2 separate regions of the Homo sapiens genome follow, and region 1 is linked to region 2. The links come from fine-mapping of genetic effects on gene expression. Tissue or cell type: spinal cord. Region 2 holds a variant in brackets; the other region holds the start of a gene. All regions are shown on one strand. Distances are between the middles of the regions.

Region 1 (8,189 bases), 230 kb before region 2:
CCATGTTGTAATTGTGTACTTATAGTGTTGTTTAATTGTGAGTATCTCCTAAAGCCTGTAATCAGTTGAATAAGAATTTTTTTAAAAAAGTTAATTGTGAGCTTCTCAATGGCAGGGATGGCAGTATCCCATTCAGCTTTTACCACAGTGGTTACATATTTTAGCTCCTCAAAAACTCTTTGTTGTGAGTTGACTTAATAAAGCACATAGATAGATAGATAGATAGATATTTAACATTACATATAATGTATAAGTAATAAGTATTATTCATGTATATATTATATGTATACACACATGTGTACAGTTGGCTCTTGAACAACATGATTTGATTTGGGCAGTTCAACTTACATGCATTTTCTTCCACCTCTGCCACTGCTCAAACAACAAAACCAACCCCTTATCTATCTTCCTCTTCCTCCTCAGCCTATTCAATGTGAAGACGATGAAGATAAAGACCTTTATGATGATCCAGTTCCATTTAATGAATAGTAAATATATTGTCTCTTCCTCGTGATTTTCCAAATGTCATTTCCTTGTCTCTAGCTTACTTTATTGTAACAATATAGTATATAATACATATATAAAATATGTATTAATTGACTGTTCATGTTATCTGTAAGGCTTCTGATCAATAGTTGGCTATTAGTAGTTAAGTTTTGGGGAAGTCAAAAGTTATACATAAATTTTCCACTGTGCATGTAGGTCAGGACCCCTAATCTGTGCATTGTTCAAGGGTCAACTTTATATACCCTTATTTGTTGTATATATGTATTTATGTGTGTATTTATAATATATGTATCTGACATATGCATTCATATATATGAAGCCCTTTAGGGGTTAAAAAGGCCCTTAGATATCATTTTATCTATTTAATGAGTATTACAAAATAGGAAGCCAAGAACCAAAGTCATTAATGACTTTACCAAAGTTCTACAGCATGTTAGTAACATACACAGTTTGAGTTCCTGTCCCAGATCTTCATCCAGTGTAACAACTTTCACTACATCATTTTAATTCAATAATCTCACCATTAATATGATTCTCTATAATCCTCTGTACCAAGACCAAGCTTACCCCATTGGAACAGATATTTTGGAGTATGTCACCTCTTTTCTCTTCCAATTCCCTTCTTGCCTCTTTATTTTCATCAAGTGATACACACATAGTGATTCTGTAACTTCTAAATTTTCATTTATGGTATATCTTTTTTCTTTAAATATTCTCTAGTTCTTTTGAGAACTACGTTCAACTCCTTTACAGATATATTAAAGTCTCCTTTCCCTTTGGTAAAAAAAAAAAAATAAAGAAGTCATTATTTTGCTTTCCAATTGAATGAACTATTTTTTTTTTTTACCAAACCAAGGATCACCAGTCAAGAAATATCTTTAACATCCTCATCACACTAGCTTACATTTGCATACAGCTTTGAAGTTTACCAATCACTTTCTCATAACTCATGTGATTTTCACACACTGCAGATAGGCAGAAGAAGGTGTCATCACATTTACATGCAGTTGAGAAAACTAAGGGTCAAAATTTAAGTGAACTGCCAAAATTCCTACAGCTAGCAAGAGCTAGGACTGGCACTGGAATCAAGGTCTCCATATCATTGTTTCTGAGAGCTTCCCACTATTTTAAACTGTTTATTGGCTTGTGTTCCTACCATGACATTTATGATGACATATATTGACACCTCAGATGCTGTACAGTGAATGTTGGCTGGGCTCTTTTCCATCTGAATTATTGCTTGGCTCTTGTTACTTTGCTAGTATAAATTTCAACTAGGCAACTACTATTTCATCCTACACTGACTTACCTAAGAAGCTCTCCCCAAGCATCCATATGATACCATTTAATGGTAAATTATAATTTGATTAATGTTTGTCATTATGAATGTGCTTTTAACAAGTAAAACCCTAGCTTACGCTAAATTAGAGATCTTCAAATCTTCGTTTCAAATTGAAGTAAATTAATTTTATTTCATTTGAATTCATTACTCAACTGATCTTCAAACTTAAGGTGTTAGCAAGAATAATCTTGCTTTTTAAAATGTGTATATGTTTCATGTAATCTTCTAAGACAAATTGTGTACTTTGACTTTAAATAAATTTCTGTTTAATCTCCTCACTAAATTTCTGGATAGCTGCAACTTCTTTAAAAATTCCAGATATCGATAGTGATGCAATTGTAGAGTAGACTGAGCTGTCTCTTCAGTAGTGGTGCAGAGATGGGCTGAAGCAGGAAAAGACACTCACTCCCTGAAACCTGTTTGCAACCCCATGACGAATACATACTTTCCCTTTCAACTACAACATTCTCTTAATGTTTGGCATGACCAAGTTATTCTTAAATTACCCCCTAGCTCTAAGCAACAGGAATAATCTTTTCCCATTTTATTCCTATGAACATGTGAAGTTTCAGGTCCCCTAAGGAATTCTCAATGTTTTTTTAATGCAGAGAGAAAGCGAACCCGCAGAAAAGGGGTTGGTAATTCCTCACTCCGTATTGTTTTCCTGCCTGTCACGGCCCCCGCCAGAAACTCCAAGCATTTTGCCAATGGGTAATGATGGGCAGTTAGTAGCTGCTTTTGTTGGGTGGTTGAAAAACAAAGCAAAACAATTCTCAAGGAAGGAAGAGAAAGTTTGAACCCAGACATCCTAAAAGTTGTACACTTTAAAAATCCTCCGACTCGCTAGTTAATAATTGAGTTTTCAGTCTTTCCCTGAAGGCTCACTGGAGCCCCATTTGCCTTTAATTGTTGGAACCGCCCTCACTTGGCTTGTTTCTGAGGTGTCCCACATATCACAAAGCTAAAGTTAACAAATTCAACTCTATATCCACAAATGTCATGACAGTGAGCATATTGCTTTGCCTAAAGAATAAAGACTGAGACTAAACTCTTTGCTTGTTCTTTGCTAGAAATCTGTTTGAGAAACTCCTAGTAGAATGAAAATCCAGGGGTTAAAAATAATGCACTTCATCATGGAAGTGCGCGTTGCCCTCATTACAGAGCTGCGAGAGAAATATTCCAGCTACTCACTGTTGCCTCTTAGTTGTTATGCTTTTCTTTCCTAATTGCATCGGACATGACCTATTTGCTTCCTAAGAAATCATACTTTTTACCTTAGGATACCAGCATAACCAAGCCATCCAAAAGCACCGGGGTCCCTACAGAAGCCCACCAGCTCCTTAATGTGGCCCCAGATGTGAAGATGGGGAAAGGGTAACTCCGTCCCACTTACCAGTCTTCCACAGATAGAGGGTGGGCGCCTCCGCCTCGCCCTGCGCCGCAGCCCTGCCGGCGCCCGGGCGTAGCAGCAGCAGCAGGAGCAGCGGCAGCGGCAGCGGCAGCGGCAGCAGCTGCAGGACGCCCCGGCGCGGCCCCGCAGCGCCCCGGCTCCCGGACGCCCAGCGCCTGGCTTGCAGCCCCATGCCGCCTGCAGCCACTCCAGGGTCCAGAGCCGTAGCACGCTCGGCAGGGAATTTTTCTCCGCTCTTGGAACGTCTTTTCAAAGAGTACAGAAAGCAAAGCTCTTTCCTGCTATTGTTCGCTTCAGATGAGAAGGAGGGAGAGCGCGTCTAACACCAGGGAACAATAGCGTCCGCGGTGGTGGCCGTGGCCGCTGCCGCCGCCGCCGCCGCCTCTGGCGGGGATGCTGCTGCCGCTGCCATTCCTCGCAGAATGGCAGGTCCCGGCGGCTCCGGAGGCAACTGTCCTCAGGGGGCCCCAGCTGACTGAGCAGGTCTGCTAGGTCTGGGAGGCAGCGCAGCCCCCGCCAGCTGGAGGGGGAGGAGGGGGGCGTGAGCCCAAAGGAGCAGAGGGGGCTGGAGGCAGAGGGAGGCGAGAGCGCGAGGGCGAGAAAGGGGGCGAGCAAAGGGGAGAGGGGCCAGCCAGGCGACACCCACCTCCGACATACCCGCCTAAAGAACTCCGGTGCACATGGTGCGATGAAATATGTTTGGAAGGATGCACCAATAAAAAGAATCATCACCCGGCAGATTTCAGAATGACAAATAACAGGCATTGATATTCACTGTCATCCAAGGAGTCAAATGCTAGATCTAGTGGCATGCTATTCTTAGTACGTATTTACACAAAGCATCAGTGTTTATTATCTATTTTTAAGCCATGGCTTCTGAATTACTTTGTGTGGGGAGCAGTATTTGAGATCAGGTGTGAAAACACGAGAGCAGAAATGTTGACTTGTCAAAATGCACTTAAACCCTTCTTTAAATGTTGTTTTTAACTTAATCTATTATCAATAAAAATATGAGCAATATTGATGCTCTGTGACAAATTAAATTGTCTTTTAATAGCCTTTAAAACTGAATTAGTGTTAATGAGTATTTGCAATGCTACCTAATTACATAAATACAATTGTACAAAAAAAAAACCCTTAAAATTAAAATTATATTTCAGGTATAGAGTTCTGTCCCTTCATCTACTTCTTTCCCTCAAAAATATGCTACTTCTAAGTATTCAGATAGTTGTGAGTCAAACTGAGTCAGTAATGCTGTCTGGATATCTTGGAATTAGTAAATTCTTCATTTAAAATTTCCCTGACACCGATTTTTCTTAACTCTTACTGTAGCAAAATGCCTGTCGCAATCTAAATAAGGAACCACATGTGTTTGCATCTTTTGTCCTTTGTGTTTTCACTTTCTTCTACCAGTAGTAATAGAAGAATGTGTGTGAAGTCGGATAATGCTTTCCCCTTTCTCCTTCTCCCTTTAGCTAATAATAATATATTTTATTATTAATTCATTTCACAGTAAAGCTAAAATAGTAGGCATTTAACCATTAAAAATTCAGCAAACGGAAAGCCAAAGAAAACTACTATCCCATCAGCAATTTTCAGCCAAATAAAATAAAATTTTAAAAGCAGGAAAACTACTTTTTATGAATTTACTCCAACATAGCTACCCTAGAGTTTAAGATGAGGAAGCTACTCTTTCTGAAAGAGGAAACCTTCCATAAGGCTCCCTTGGGACCCTTGTCATTTTGCAAAGCCTTCCAGACACAGCCCCTCTGCATGCATTAGATTAAAAGCGGGTTTGATCAAATAATTCCCAGGTCCTGCCTGTTTAAGTATTCTGACATCAGAGGAAATTAGCTACGTTGAAGGTTGCAAATTTGGTCTTTGTTTACTTTCCGCTCTGTTAGGCCTCTAAGAAGGAATTAAAAGCTCAGAGAGCCCGAGCGCTGTGAGTCTGTGATTAGGAGAGATAAGCTAGTGTGGCTTACTATTTCTTCACTCGTGAAAAACAGGCAACAATCAAAAGATTATAGGTTGATAAGGAATAAAAAGGAAGCCTGATCTTAACTAATGTATGGTTCCCTGAAGGATCACTTCTTTTGACAGTTACACCACAGAAGGAAATGGGACCTGCTATTGCTTCCTGGGTTCTGTCGTTTCAGGAAAATTTCCATGTCCACTCCACAAGGAATCATTTTCCCATCCTTTCTGCTTGTATTTCTCAGCTACTGTTAGTGCCCTAAACCTTGAAATCCTCTAACTCTGGCACAGGAAGTATTTCAAACTGGACATACTCTGCTAACAGCAGCCATTCTACGCATTCGTGGGAAGCGCCAATCAATTCACCAAGTGGGAATTCATTATATAACAGAGGACAGAGAGTCTGAGGAATTAAGTTAATGTGCAAGGTCATTTACCTAGCCCTTCAAAAAGCCATCCGACACTATACTTAATAGCTTATTGTCAAAAGAAATTTTAAGATTCTGACCTTTATATTTACCCATGGTGGTATAATAATAACTCAACTTGTCAAGAGTGTAAACATCATAGCTACAAATTCAAGCATTATACGGGGTCAATTTCTAGGTTCCAATTTGCTGCCATTTACAATACACAATTATGGTGATATGTTCTGCAGTACTGTTTCAAAATAGCCAACATTTGGTTTCCTTCTTTCAATTTCAACGTACACAAGGCCTAGGAGTCACACACACACATGCACATACACAAACACACACAATCATCAGCAAAGATATCTCTGAACAAGGTTAGAGAATCCAAGTCATATAAACATTTGTCTCCACACCTGCCACACATTTGTTCATAACAATGTCATTATTGCACTTGAGGACAAAAATGTATGGGTCTCTGAGGAGACAAAAGTGATGTATATATCCTGATATGTGTTCCTTTGTGAAAGGTATAGTGTCTAGGTAGATAAATCCTATCAATAAAACTGATAGATGGCAAGAGATAGCAAGACATAGCAATATTTGTTTCCTAGAATATGACATAAATAATAATACACAAATGTTTAATGACATGATGTCAAAATTTAGTCATGAGAAGTCTCAAGGATGCAGATTAAATTGACCATCTGTACAGCCTGCCATGAAGTAAATCGTTCGTCATTTTTCATGGAGAACTGTTCAAATATTAATGAGCCAGTGCGATAAAAGTTCTCCAAACCAATGAATGACAAATGCAAAGCATATTTTTTTAATATTTAGAAATGAAAAAATTCTAAACTTATCACCTCTCATGTGATAGGTGTCTTTATTCTGCCTCTATTAATTTTGCTATCATTTCTAAACTCCAGAGGTAAGGATGTGAACATACCTATACACATCTGTTTTCTCTTTTATTAGAACATAAACATATAAATATATATTACAACTCATGAGACTCATGACAATGACTTTTAGTCATTAGTATCAATATTTTAAAACAATTATGAAATATTCAGTTCCTTGATGGAAAGGGAAACAACTTTTAACATCAACAGTTTTATAATTATAAAAAAGTGAAGAAATATAGTTATTTATTGATAGTATTACATATGGAAATATCTAAAGATGTCCATTTTGAAATAAAAACTTAAAAATAATTCTCCACATAAATGCATTTTGCATCCTAAAAAATAAAAAATACCCAAAGGAATTCTATTTGTGCAACCTCTAGGTGTCACACTTGACCAAGATTTGGATGAGACAAAATTTATTTTGGGCTTCTTTCTATCCTCCCCTTCCCTTGACACCCACCCACCAAGTTTATAGGTACACCTCATTTTACTGTGCTTTACACATATTTTTGTTTGTTTGTTTGTTTAACAAATTTAAGGCTTGTGACAACTTGGCATTGAGCAAGTCTATCAACATAATTTTTCCCACATGAAGTGCTCACTTCATGTCTCTATCACATTTTGGTAATTTTCATAATTTTTCAAATGTTGTCACTATTATTCTATCTGTTATGGTGATCTGTGATCTGTGATCTTTGATGTTACTGTTGTAATTATTTTGGGGCACCACATACTGTGCCCATATAAAATAGCAAACTAAATTAATGAATGTTGTTGTGTATTCTGACTTCTCCACCAACAGGCTGTTTCCCTATCTCTCTCTCGTTGGGCCTCCCTTTTCCCTGAGACATATGAATATTGAAATTAGGCTAATTAATAACCCTACAATGGCTTTTAAGCGTTCAAGTGAAAAGAAGAATTACAAGTCTCTCATTTTCAATCAAAAGCCTAAAATTATTAAGCTTATTAGGGAAGGCATATCAAAAGCCAAGATAGGCCAAAAGCTAGGCCTCTTGCACCAGTTAGCCAAGTTGTGAATGCAAAGGAAAGTTCTTGAAGAAAATTAAAAGTACTACTTTAGCAAATACACATATGAAAGGAAGCAAAACAGCCTTATTGCTGATATGGAGAAAGCTTTAGTGATCTAGATAGAAGATCAAATCAGCCACAACATTCCTTTAAACCAAAGCCTAATCCAGAGAAAGGCCCCAATTCTATTTAAACCTGTAAAGACCAAATGACATGAGGAAGCTGCAGAAAAGTGTGAAGCTGGCAGAGACTGTTTCATAAGGTTTAAGGAAAGAAGCCATGTTCACAACAAAATTGCAAGGTGAAGCAGCTGTAGCAAGCTACTCAGAAGATGTAGCTAAGATCACTGATGAAAGTAGCCACATTAAACAATTTTCAACATAAACAGATGAAAGTACCTACATTAAACAATCAATTTTCAACATAAATGAAAAAAGCCTTCTATTAGAGGAATATGCCATCTAAAATTTTAATAGCTAGAGAGGAGAAGTCAATGCTTGGCTTTAAAATTTCAAAGGACAGGTTGACTCTCTTGTTAGGGTCTAATTCAGCTGGTGATTTTAAGTTGAAGCCAATGCTTACTTACCATTCTGAAAATCCTA
Region 2 (8,189 bases):
AAGGGAACCCTTGGGTAATGTTGCTGGGAATGTACAAACATGATGGAAAACAGTATGTGGGTTTCTAAAAAAATTAAAAATAGAACTACCCTATGACCCAGAAGTCTCACTTCTAGGACTATATAAAAACAAAACTAAATCAAGATTTTCAAGAGATCTGCACCCCCATATTCATTGCAGCTCTATTCACCATAGCCAATATGTGCAAACAACCTGTGTCCATCAACAGGTGACTGAATAAAGAAAATGTAGTATAAATACATAATGGAATGTTGCACAGCTTTTATGAATATTTTTTTCTGAATATTATTCCACATTGCAAAAAAATATAAAAACCAGTTATTTGTAACAACGTGGATAAACCATGTATAAATAATCCAGTCACAGAAAAACAAATGCTTCATGATCTCCTATGTGGGATCTAAAAGAATCAAACTCATAGAAGCAGAAAGAAGAGTGTTTGCTAGGAACTGGATAGATGGGGAAACAGCAAGATCCTGTTAAGGAGTATAAAGTTTCAGTGTAACAAGAATAAGTTATGGAGATTTAATGTATACCAATGTGACTATAATAAACAACTTACTGTATAATTGAAATTTGCTAAGAGGTTAGCTCTTAAGTGTTCTCACAACAAAAAGAAACAAAAATGATAACTCAAGAAATGGCTATGTTAATTATCTTGGCTGTTGCACTTATGTCACAATGAATATGTATATCAAATCATCAAATTGTACTTCTTAAATATATACAATTTTCAATTGTCAAATATACTTCAATAGAAACATTTTTTTCTAGAGGAAACATTTGTTATGACTTTCAGTAAGAAAAATCTGTTAAGGACTTTAAAAATAGCATTCCCAGAAGTTTTCTGGTTGAGAGACTGGCCTATGATTTTCTAGGACATCACTTTTTTGTCTGTTCTCTTGTGAATAATTTGGAGAACAATGGGTCACTGGAGGAAAGACTCTTCGAACCCAACACCTGATGCAGCCTTTGGCTCCTCCTACATCTTGAAGCATGACTTTTGATAATTTTATGAACTTCAATTTTCACATCTATTAAGTGAAAATAATCAAAAGAATGAAATATAATGAAAATCAAAATACCTTTCAGGGAAAGAGCTGAAAGAAACTCATTTAATTGGAGAAAAAAATTCTACCAAAAATAAATTTGCACATTTAATTTGCTCTGGATATTGCTGTCCTAAACTATTCTATAGTAGACAGAATTATGCCACCCCTTCCTCCCCTCAAGAAAAGTTGTTCATATCCTAATATGTTACCTCTCATGGCCAAAGGGACTTGGTTGATGTTATTCAGGTGAAGAAATTTTTTTTTTTTTTTTGATATAAGATCTCACTCTGTCACCCAGGCTAGACTGCAGTGGTATGATCTTCGCTCACTGTAGCCTCGACCTCCTGGGCTCAAGTGATTCTCCCATCTCAGTGCTCAAGTAGCTTGGACTGGAGGTATATGCCACTATGCCCAGATACTGGATAATTTTTTTTATTTGTTGTAGAGATGAGGTCTCACTATGTTGCCCAGGCTGGTGTCAAACTCCTGGCCTCAAGCAAGCCTCCCGCCTCGACCTCCCAAAGTGCGGGGATTACAGGCAGAGCCACCACAGCTGGCCATAGGTAAAGGATCTTTAAATGGGGAGATTATCCTGGATTACTCACATGGGCCCAGTCTAAATATACGAGTTCTTAAAAATGGAAACTTTTTCCCAGCTGCAATCAGAGAGATATATAACAAAAGATTGTCAGAGGATGAATTTTGCTCGTTTTAAAGATGCAGAAAGGGGGTCATAGTCAGGAAATGTGGGTAGCCTCTAGAAATTGGAAAGTCAATGAAACCAATCCTCCTAAAAGCCTCCAGAAAGGAATGCAACCCTGCTGATACCTTGATTTGAGACTAGTGAGACTATGTAGGACTGCCAGAAGAGTAACATAATTTAGTGTTGTTTTAAGCCACTAACATTGTGCTAGTTTGTTATGGCAACAATAGAAAACTAATACATATTGTTATGCTTATTCTCTTTAAGTAACTTTAAAAGGTAAAACTGAGATCTGCCCCATCCATAAATATAACTGAGTCATTGACATCAAATAGACCCGGAAGCAGATTAATGGTCTACATAATGTGATTATCACACATGCCACAGGCAAAGCAGTTACTAAGGATCAGTATGTATCTTCTCACTGAATCAGGGAGTAAACTTACTTTCATGGAGCCAAATCACAATTTGCCAATGAAGCTGGATGTTTGAACTTTTCACCTTGCTTTTATAAAAAGGGTGTTTTATTTTATGTTTTGCAAAACTTTTTTTTTTTAGCTTCCCTAGCCACCACAAAAGAGAGTTATACTTGCTGTAAGCTCCCCCAGGCAGAAATCAGAAATTAGAGGACATAGCAACAGAAAGAAGGGTCTTTTAAAAATGCCTGAATGACTTGTGTTTGTCTAACACCTAGCTGTGGTGGAAGAAGAGTATAAGAAACAGACTGTCTACTTATTGATTGTTGTAGGTAAAATATGCACCTAATTGCTTCAACAACAGAAATATAGTCTCCGTCTTGAAAGGAAGTTGAAATATACTATATTGAAACTGTTTTGCAGAGACTGCAAACAAGCAGGATCCTCCAGTTAGAATTAGTTTCAAGACTTATAATTTTAATATTTTAAGTACAAACAGGAGCTTGAGCTGGACAAAATGTCAGCTTATAGGACTTTATAAGTGATTTCTTTACTGATTATATGAGAATTATTTGTGATTAGCATTTCATTCACCTATAAAACGAAAGATTGCTTTAAGTAGATATTTCTCTTTTTACGTCAAATGGAACAAAATTTAGTTTAGACGGTAACTTTGTTTCTGCACTTAAAAACACATTGAACTGCAGTCCAGCACTTATGTAAATGTTTTACCATCATTTTATAATGTGAATTAGTGACATTAATGAAAATAAAAAATAAAGGTGTATGTGAAGCTCTTCCCCACTTGAAGTGAATGGAGACCTGTTCCCTGGAGGAGAATGGGAATCCCAGGCAGGCCCCCAAAATTGTTGGAAGTAAATGTTCAGTGCCACAAAGTAAAAATAGCATTCAGACAAAAGTTTTCTCAACAAGACAATTTACTTCTATAGAAGGGTGAGTCTCATGGATAGAGCAATGGAGAGAGCACACCAGACAAGGGATGGGAAGAGCGTCTTATCCTTAATGCAGCTAGTCCCTACTGCTGTGTCTTTCCCCTATTGACTAGGGTTAGACCACACAGTCTAAGGTAATTCCAATTGGCTGCTTTAAAGAGAGCAGGGGTATGACCTGGAATGGTGAGGTGAGTAGTTT[C/T]GGTGGGAAGGATGGTTACAAAACAGGTGACTAAGGATGACTAAGGACAGAACAGGTGACTAAGCATGGAACAGGTGACTATAAGGATGAGTAAAGACAGAGGAGGTGACTAAGGACAGAGCAGGTGATAGAGATTAGGAGGGGGCTGTTTATTGAAACTAGGGACAAGAGACGTAAAGAACGAAAGGACGTTAAGAAACATATATAAGAAACATATACCACAATGATGTGCTGCCCTTTTTCACTCTTCTCTTTTGTCACCCAGGTTTTACTAAGGACTAGACATGTTACGTTTGCTTTCCCTTTGTATTCCTAATAGAAAACATGCTGTATGATTTTGTTTGTTTTATATCTGCTTATTTTAGGACTGTTTGCCATACCACAGAAGTAATGCAACTTGGTCTGCACTAAGGCCTTGTAGGATACAGTAGATTTCTCTTTAAAGAACCAATATGTCACTATGTTCAGCTTCCCTGTTCTTTGTTCCTCATCTTAAAGTTTAACTTCCTTGTTCTTTACGTCTCTTTGTCCCTAGTTTCAGTAAACAACCCCCTCCTAACCTCTATCACCCTCTCTGTCCTTAGTCACCTGCTCTGTCCTTAGTCATCTGCTCTGTCTTTAGTCATCCTTATAGTCACCTGTTCTGTCCTTAGTCACCTGCTCTGTCCTTAGTCATACTTAGTCACCTGTTTTGTAACCATCCCTCCCACCAAAACTACTCACCCTGCCATTTCAGCTTGTACCACTGCTCTCTTTAAAATAGCCAACCCGAATTACCTTAGACTGTGCGGTCTAACCCTAGTCAATAGAGGAAAGACACAGCAGTAGGGACTAACTGCATTAAGGATAAGACTCTCTTCCCCTCCCTTGTCTGGTGTGCTCTCTCCATTGCTCTATCCATGAGACTCACCCTTCTATAGAAGTAAATTGTTTTGTTGAGAAAACTTTTGTCTGAATGCTATTTTCACTTTGTGGCACCGAGCATTTACTTCCAACAATTTTGGGCGCCTGCCCGGGATTCCCATTCTCCTCCAGGGAATGGGTCTCCATTCACTTCTCGTGGGGAGACGCGTCCCATTGCCTCATTGTGGTGGCCTCAGGGTGAGAGATGGGGAACCACCCAGTGCGACAAATAAACTCGGGCTCTCAACAACCCAGAAGGAAACAGGATGATAGCTTGGGGAAAGGATTCTCACATACCGCAGCAATCAGGTAACTCTGTACACAGACCAAGTTAAGCAATGTCGCAGGGGTGACGAAGTATTTCCTTGCTGGTCAAGATATTCTGGAGGTTAAAAGTGTGTTTAAATGATCACAAACACTACTGCTTGCAGTGCTGCTTGTGTGAATGGTACTACGCACTACCGCTGTGTGGAGTGAGTGGGTCCTATCTGCGGTTCCATGGTCACCTCATACGGCTTAGGACAGATCCTGCCATGGGGTTCAAACTGGCATGCCAATACCAAGAGGGGCCTAGACACCCAAAAGGGAAGCGGCCAGAGTGGATGAAGCAAAAGAAGGGTGCAAGGATCCTCCAGCAGGTGGGGCTAAAAGATAGGCAAGAAATCTCTAGTATGAGGGATTAAGCCTAACTAGGACCCAACATGGGAAATACCCTAAGCAAGACAGGGAGTAAAAAGGATAAAAATACCAACAAAGATGATTCCCCCTCATAGTCCCCTAGGTCTCATGTTAAAATACTGGAAAAATAATGAGAGGACTAAACATAAGAAAAAGCAACAAATGATAAAATATTGCTGTTTTATTTGGACTCAGAGACCCATCTTCAAACCCTCAAATCTTCTGACCAAAGTTTGGGTCGAATGAAGATGTAATGTGTCAGCTTTTCATTCAATATGTAAATGATAAAAGCCTCGTTTCTCAAGAGGAACTAGACTATGCTCTTTGTTGGAGGCAGAGACCTGTCCTTTTCCCCTTAAAGACAACTAGGGAAGAACCCAATGTAACATCACAAAAGGAAAAATTACATAAGTTAGTTCCCATGCGCAAAGACTCCAGCATATGGGATCCCCTAGACCATCTTCCCCTGCTCAGTGACCCCAAGCCCTCTCCTCAGACAGCTGCTGCTGCCCAAGATCCTGCTCCAGATTCTTCACCTACTCACGTTATTCCCCCTCCTTACAATCCTGACTCTTGGAAATTATCATCCCAAGAGTCTGTCCCCTAACAGCCTAAGGACCCCTCCCTAAAGGGACTCCAATGTGAAATAGAACAATATAAAAAGGATATCCGAAACTTCCCTTTTCCCTCTACAACTAAAGAGTCAGCCCCTGATCTCCTTCCCTTAAGATAGGTGCCACAAGGAGGAGGAACCATTGACTTCATGGATACTCCCTTAACCAGTTCAGAATTCCAGAGTTTAAAAAAGGAGCTTAAGCCATTACTAGATGACCCTTACGGAGTGGCAGATCAAATTGATCAATTTTTAGGACCTCAGTTATACACTTGGGTTGAGTTAATGTCCATTTTGGACATCCTCTTTTCAGGAGAAGAAAGGAGTATGATTCATAGGGCTGCTATAGTAGTTTGAGAACGTGAGCATTCACCCAGTCAAAACGTTCCTACCATGGACCAGAAATTCCCTGCCCAAGACCCCCGCTGGGACAATAACAACACAACTCACCAGGAAAATACACAGGGCCTAAGGGAGGTGATAATCAAATGAACTCGGGAATCAGTACCCCAAACCCAAAATCTTTCTAAAACATTTAATATGCAACAGAAAAAGGATAAAGGGCCTATGAAATTCCTAGACAGACTGAAGGAACAAATGAGACAATATACAGGCCTCAATTTAGAAGATCCCTTTGGATGAGAAATGTTAAAACTCCAATTTTTCACAAAAAGTTGGCCAGACATTTCAAAAAAAGTACAAAAAAATAGAAAATTGGAAAGACCAGACCGTCCCCCGAGTGAACTTCGCATGGAAACTCAAAAGTTATGTGTGAGGAGAGACGAAAAAAATCAGAAACAAAAGACAAAACTTACATTATCCACCTTCCAACAGAAGACTCCAAATCCATGTCCTTCTAAACAGAGCTTCCAGAGACACAGAAACTATAAAGGGTCCAAACCCTTCTTTAAAAGACCTAAGCCTCCATCTGGAGGACCAAGGCCCTCTGAAGAGTATGGCAAAACAAAGTAAAAAAATCCCAGAACTGAGAGGTACAAAGGACAAGATAGGTGCTACAAATATGAAAGTACAGGCCACTTCAAGAGGAAATGTCCTGAATTCAAAAAAGAGAAAAAAGTCCTTCCGTTCATTACTTTTGAGGAAGAATAAGGGAGTCAGGGGCTCTGTCTCTTTTATGTTGAGTCCCACCAGGAGCCCTTAATAAATTTAGAAGTGGGACCTAAACATGAATTTATCACTTTTTGTTCGATTCAGGGATGACTTGTTCCTCTGTTGGTTTCCCCCCATCTAATATTGCCTACTCTTTGGAAGGACTTTTGCTCTCTGGAGTGAAAGGTGAAGGATTTAAAACAAAAATTTTAAAATACACAAAAGTCAAATACCAAGATCAATCAGCTCATATTCAGTTTTTGTTAATCCCTGAAGCAGAGACTAATTTATTAGGGAGGGATTTAATGTTGAAGTTAGGCAGAGGCCTACAAGTCAGACCAAGAGAATTCTTCACCTCATTAAACCTACTCACCAATACAGAGACAAAATACATTAATTCTAATGTCTGGTCCAAAGAAAAGAACTGAAGAAAACTCTGAGTCCCTCCAATCCACATCAAGCTAAAAACCCCCGGGGAAGTAGTAAGGAGAAAATAATACCCCATTCCCCTAGAGGGCAGGATAGGGTTAAAACCTATAAGTGAAGGTCTTACTAAAGATGGGCTTCTTGAGCCCTATATGTCCTCTTATAACACCCCAATACTGCCTGTCAAGAAATCAGATGGGTCATACTGGCTGGTAAAAGACCTTAGAGCCATTAACCAAATAGTCCAAACTACCCACCCCATTGTTCCCAATCCTTACACCATTCTCAGCAAGATTCCATATAATCATCAATGGTTTACTGTTACAGATTTGAAGGATGATTTTTGGACATGTCCCCTGGCTAAAGATTGTGAAGATATATTTGCTTTTGAGTGGAAAGATCTCCATCCAGGGTGAAAACAACAATATCGATGGACAGTCTTATTCCAAGGGTTCACAGACTCCCTTAACCTTTTCGGTCAAATTTTAGAACAAGTATTAGAAAAAGTCATCATCCCAAAACAAATATGCCTACTCCAATATGTTGATGATATTCTTATATCTGGTGAAGATATGGAGAAAGTAGCTAGCTTCTCTACACATATTCTTAACCATCTGCAGTTCGAAGGGTTACAAGTCTCAAACGGAAAGCTTCAGTAGGTAGAGCCTGAAGTTAAATATTTAGGCCACAGTGCAGACAAGTGAAAAATAGGGCCTAAATAAGTTGAGGGAATCGTATCCCTACCCTTGCCTCAAACTAAATAAAAACTCAGGAAATCTTTAGGGTTAGTTGGATACTGTCACTTATGAATTGACTCATATGCACTAAACAATAAACTTTTATATCAAAAACTTGCCCAGAAGAAGCCTGACCATCTCCTGTAGACTTCTGAGAAAGGTGATCAGATCAAAGAGCTGAAAGAAAGGCTCATAACCACCCTTGTCTTAGCCTTACCTTCCCTAAAAAGCCATTCCACATTTTTGTCAACGTGGATAATGGAGTAACTTTAGAAGTGCTTACTGAAGGACACAGAGGCTGTTGGTAGCCTGTGGTCTTCCTGTCAAAAGTCTTAGATCCAGTTACTTGTAGATGGCCTCAATACATCCAATCCATTG

Evidence for each region. PIP is the estimated chance that this variant, and not a neighbour inherited with it, causes the effect.
Region 1: it holds the start of THSD7A, and the variant in region 2 is fine-mapped to the expression of THSD7A in spinal cord (GTEx, PIP 0.96).

Annotation. Positions count from the first base shown.
Region 1 is chr7:11,828,515-11,836,703 of GRCh38, forward strand. It overlaps THSD7A (thrombospondin type 1 domain containing 7A), which reads right to left and starts at 3,684. Exons shown (of 28, transcript NM_015204.3): 1 at 3,243-3,684. The coding sequence starts at 3,432. RefSeq lists a silencer at 1,429-1,723 and enhancers at 3,281-3,821, 3,822-4,361.
Region 2 is chr7:12,062,796-12,070,984 of GRCh38, forward strand. The region is part of intron 1 of LOC124901589 (a long non-coding RNA gene); the gene reads right to left. Among named protein-coding and RNA genes, the nearest start is that of TMEM106B, 140 kb to the right of the region's middle. RefSeq lists an enhancer at 3,163-4,362. The variant C/T (reference allele first, on the strand shown) is at 3,345.